Linked DNA regions of Homo sapiens: region 2 is linked to region 1. The links come from fine-mapping of genetic effects on gene expression. Tissue or cell type: cerebellar hemisphere. Region 1 holds a variant in brackets; the other region holds the start of a gene. All regions are shown on one strand. Distances are from middle to middle.

What was found. PIP is the estimated chance that this variant, and not a neighbour inherited with it, causes the effect.
Region 2: RMND5B starts here. The variant in region 1 is fine-mapped to the expression of RMND5B in cerebellar hemisphere (GTEx, PIP above 0.99).

Annotation. Positions count from the first base shown.
Region 1 is chr5:178,647,643-178,650,327 of GRCh38, reverse strand. No RefSeq gene overlaps it. Among named protein-coding and RNA genes, the nearest start is that of CLK4, 22 kb to the right of the region's middle. The variant G/A (reference allele first, on the strand shown) is at 1,249.
Region 2 is chr5:178,129,735-178,132,419 of GRCh38, reverse strand. RMND5B (required for meiotic nuclear division 5 homolog B) reads right to left here and starts at 1,406. Exons shown (of 11, transcript NM_022762.5): 1 at 1,366-1,406; 2 at 1,044-1,183. RefSeq lists enhancers at 1-302, 1,581-2,232, 2,233-2,685 and a silencer at 1,260-1,849.

The sequences.
Region 1 (2,685 bases):
TGCAAGGAAAGCTGGGAAATAGAGGCACTCATGGACGTTTGGTGAATACTAACAACTCTTCCACAGCCTGTGTGCTGGTTTTGTCTGTGAGGGCTGCTGTGGGATCACTAGCCAGGGAAGTAGTGCCTGGCACAGTCTGCCCTCATTAAATGTTTAGTGAATGAATAAATGTATATTTCCCATTAATTGAGATAGATGCGGAGATTACAAAAACAAATCTGATGTGGTTCCTGTTTTCGATGAGCTCTCAGGATTCTTCTTTCTTTCCCTCGTGTTTTAGGGGGAAACTGGCCTCTCTCCTCTTCAAAAGCTCCACTTGCCACCTGTGCCTCCCCTAAGAATGTCCTTTGGCCCTGTCTCCATCAACCGTCACTGTCTCCCTGACGACCCCCTTCCTCTCCACTGACAGGTTACCTCCTCTTGCTCTCCAAGCAGCCTCACATCTTCTCAAACCTGAAATAACCTCTCAGCATTGCTTCCCCTTCATCACTTTGCAACTCCCAATCACCCTCAACATACCACACCCAGGATCCTGGCCTCATCACTCGTACTTGATTAAAAATGCTTCCTCAAAGCTACTGGTGACTTCCTAATTTTTTAAACAGCTTCACTGAGCTGTATGTTTCATATACCATACACTTCACCAATGTGAAGTTCACAATTCAATGGTCTCTAGCATGTTTCTCTCACCACAAAAAGGAACCCCACACCCTTTAGCTTTCACTCCCCATACTCCCATCCTCCTCCCCTGACCCTAAACAACCGCTAATCCGCTTTCCTTCACTGTAGATTTCCCTGCTCTGTACTTTCATATGAATGGAATCATACCATGTATGGCCTTTTGTGACTGGCTTCATCCACTCGGCTTAATGTTTTCCAAGTCCATCCATGCTGTGGCATGTGTCAGCACGTCATTCCTTTTTATGGCTGAATAATATTCCACTGTGTGGAAAGACCACATTTTGTTTATCCATTCATCCATTGATGCACATTTGGATTGTTACACTTTTGGACTATAATGAATAGTGCTGTTATGAACATTCATGTATACGTTTTTTGTGAACATGTTTTCAATTCTCTTGGGTATATAACAGGAGTGGAATTGCTGGGTCATATGATAACTGTTTAATCATTTGAGCAACTGCCAGACTTTTCTAAAGTGGCTGCACTGCTTTACATTCTTATCCATGTGTGGAGGGTCTAATTTCGCTACATTTTTTTTTTTTGAGACAGAGTCTCACTCTTGTC[G/A]CCCAGACTGGAGTGCAGTGGCGTGATTTCGGCTCACTACAGGCTCCCCCTCTCGGGTTCACACCATTCTCCTGCCTCAGCCTCCCGAGTAGCTGGGACTACAGGCGCCCGCCACCACGCCTGGCTAAGGTTTTGTATTTTTAGTAGAGATGGAGTTTCACCGTGTTAGCCAGGATGGTCTCGATCTCCTGACCTCGTGATCCGCCCGCCTCGGCCTCCCAAAGTGCTGGGATTATAGGCATGAGCCACTGCGCCTGGCCTAATTTCACTGTATTTTGCCAACGCTTGATATTATCTAATTTTCATTCTAACCGTTCTAGTCGGGGAGGGAAAATTGTAGCTCGTTGTGGTTTAAATTTGCATTTCCCTGATAACTAGGGACTTTCTAATTTTTTTTTTAAAGTAGAGATGGCATCTCACTCTGTCACCCAGACTGGAGTGCAGTGGCACAGTAACAGCTCACTGCAGCCTCGACCTCCTGGGCTCAAGCAATCCTTCCACCCCAGCCCCCTGAGTAGCCGGGACTACAGGCATACTGAGCTAATGGACTTCCTAATTTTTTAAATCACTATCTTCTTATTTCCTATCTAACATAGTCTTCCTTTAGCTTTTCACACCACTCTTGATGCAATTCAGTTCCCTCCCTTATGCAGCTCCTGAGGTCTGCTCCTCTCTGGCATTCCCTTCCTGACTTTCTGGCCTCCTTCACGGACTCTTATTTCCACCCCACAAATTCTGTTGCTCCCAGGGCTTCGTCCTCAGCCCTGTTCTTGCTCTGCTGTGACCCTGCTAACCCTGTTCACCCCTGTGCCTCTCACCAGCACCCACATGGAAGACCCTTGAATGTAGACACTTCCCAGGTCTTAGTCCCCATTCCACTTCACACTATCCTTCATAGAAACTCAATGAAAAGTTCAATCCAATATCAATAAAGTGTCTATGACTAAGATGCACAGAAAATATTGTATACTATAATTAGTAATAATGATTCCTTCTTTCAAGTATCAGTTAAAAATAAGTAGATGGGCCAGGCGCGGTGGCTCACGCCTGATATCCCAGCACTTTGGGAGGCCAAGGCTGGCGGATCACTTGAGGTCAGCAGTTTGAGACCAGCCTGACCAACATGGTGAAACCTCCTCTCTACTAAAAATACAAAAATTAGCCAGGCGTGGCGGCGGGTGCCTGTAATCCCACCTACTAGGGAGGCTGAGGCAGGAGAATCACTTGAACCCAGGAGGCAGAGGGTGCAGTGAGCTGAGATCGTGCCATTGCACTACAGCTGGGTGTCAAGAGCAAAACTCCATCTCAATAAATAAATAAATAAATAAATAAATAAATAAATAAAATAAAAAATAAGTAGATGACTTGAGCCCAGAATCCCAGCTACTTGGGAGACTGAAGCGAGAGGATTGCTTGAGGACAGGCGTTCAAGATCAG
Region 2 (2,685 bases), 520 kb after region 1:
GCCCAGGCTGGAGTACAGTGGCACGATCTTGGCTCATTGCAACCTTTGCTTCCCAGTTTCAAGCGATTCTCCTGCCTCAGCCTCCCAAGTAGCTGGAATTACAGACACCTGCCACCACACCCGGCTAAATTTTGTATTTTTAGTAGAGACGGGGTTTCACCATGTTGGCCAGGCTGGTCTTGAACTCCTGGCCTCAAGTGATCCTCCCGCCTTGGCCTCCCAAAGTGCTGGGGTTACAAGCGTGAGCCACTGCGCCCAGCCTAATTTTTTGGAGCGACAGGGTTTCACCATGTTGGCCAGGTTGGTCTTGAAGTGCTGAGCTCAAGCCGTCTGCCAGTCTCAGCCTCCCAAAGTGCTGGAATTACGGGCGTGAACCACCGTGCCCAGCCAATTCTTATGCTTTTGCAGCCGCGACCTCCATCCACTCTCTACCCTACATGTCACTCCTCTGCTTAAAACCAAAAGATTTCCACTGTACTTAGAAAAAACTCCACATTCCTCTCTCTGACCTACAGACTCTATGTGACCAAACCCCAATTATCCGACCTCATCTCCTACCACTCTTTCCCTTTCTTACCATACTTTAGCCACACTAGCTTGCTTTCTGTTCCTTGACTATACTCTCAGTTGATTTCTGCCCTAGGGCCTTCACACTGGCTGTTCCCGCTGCCTGGACCACTCTCTTCCCGTATCTTCCTAAGCCTGCCTCCTAATTTGGGTCTCAACGCAAATGTCCCGTCCTCAGAGATGCTCTGCTAGACCACAGTATCTAATACTGACCCCTCCGCCCCACCCTCACACCAGTTACCGTGTCATATCGCCCTCCTCCATTTTTTTTTTTTTTTTACTATACAGTCCTACTTGAAGTTTCTAATCTTTCTTTTCTCATTAACCAAAACTGGAGGGAGGAAAAAGCCCATCATTTTCCCTGGACAGCAGCGCCTACTGGGAGTTTCACCCGCATTAACATGCAAACGACAGGCAAACTCCTAGTCATCCTTCCAAAGACCCTGCTCCATAGCCCTGCCGAGCCCGGTGCGCACCTGCTCACTTCCGACCCAGCGCGGTCGCACGAGGACTGGACGTTTGAGTCCGAGCAACTCCCCCCGGCTGAGGCGGCTCTTCGGGGGCTGGGCCGGGACCTATGAGTCTGGGACTCCAGCTCCCGGCCCAGGGCCGACAACTGCGAAGAGAACAAGCCCAAGGGCAGATTGTTCGGGGCTTAGTCGTGGGTAGCAGGGGTTCTGGAGAAGGCTGGGGCCCGGGAGGCCGGCCGAGCTTTCCCCGCCGCGCGCCTCAGCTCCGCCGGCCGCTGTGCCCGCCCTCGGCCCGCACCTGCCGGCTCCCAAGCCCGCCCGCTCTCACCTCGCCCCGCAGCCCCGGCCCCGGCTTCCGGCGCCACTGTCATCGGAACCGGAAGCCGCGGCGGGCGATCGGCGGCCCGGGCCCGCCCATTGGCGGTTTTGCGGAGGGGTGGCCGTCCCACGAGCCCGCGGCTTTGCGCCTCACCGCCGAGGCTCCCCGCCGCGCATGCCGAGTGGAGTCGCCCGCGGGAACCGGGCGGCGGCCAGAAAAGCCGCGCCTGTAGTCCTCTGGGGGTCGCGCCTGGTCGTTTCCAGGTTCCGAGTCCCTCCGGCCCGGCCCCGGGCCTCCCAGTCGGCGGAAGCCCCTGGCCGCGACCGCTCCTCGCCGGCGGGCGGGTTCCCCACCCGGCAGAGGCGTCGGCCTCGCACTCAACCCAGCACCCGACTCCCGGGTCAGAAGCCCCAAGCCCCAAGTGGTTACGCTTACAGCGCTGCCCGCCCTGCTCAGTGAGGGCGGCGCGGGGGCCGTGAGGGGCAGTGGCTGGGCTAGGTGCGCACCGGCCTCGGCAGGGCTGTGGAGCAGGGTCTTTGGAAGGATGACTAGGAGTTTGCCTGTCGTTTGCATGTTAATGCGGGTGAAACTCCCAGTAGGCGCTGCTGTCCAGGGAAAATGATGGGCTTTTTCCTCTCTCCAGTTTTGGTTAATGAGAAAAGAAAGATTAGAAACTTCAAGTAGGACTGTGAACAGGCTTAGGGATCCTGGACAGAGCCTAGAAATCTCAGGAGAACTGAGAGCTCTTGAAATATGAAGTGATGCTTAAAAAAAAAAAGAAAACTCCAGGCCGGGCGCGGCGGCTCACGCCTGTAATCCCAGCACTTTGGGAGGCCGAGGCGGGCGGATCAGGAGGTCAGGAGATCGAGACCATCCTGGCTAACACGGTGAAACCCCGTCTCTACTAAAAATACAAAAAATTGGCCGGGCGAGGTGGGGGGCGCCTGTAGTCCCAGCCACTCGGGAGGCTGAGGCAGGAGAATGTCGTGAACCCGGGAGGCGGAGCTCGGAGTGAGCCGAGACGGCGCCACTGCACTCCAGCCTGGGCGACAGAGCGAGACTCCGTCTCAAAAAAAAAGAATAGAAAACTCCGGGCCGGGCGGCTCACGCCTGTAATCCCAGCACTTTGGGAGGCTGAGGCGGGCGGAACATAAGGTCAGGAGTTCGAGACCAGCCTGTCCAATATGGTGAAACCCCGTCTGTACTAAAAATACAAAAATTAGCCGGGAATGGTGGCAGGCGCCTGTAGTCCCATGATCCTAGCTACTCGGGAGACTGAGGCAGGAGAATCGTTTGAACCCGAGAGGCGGAGGTTGCAGTGAGCCGAGA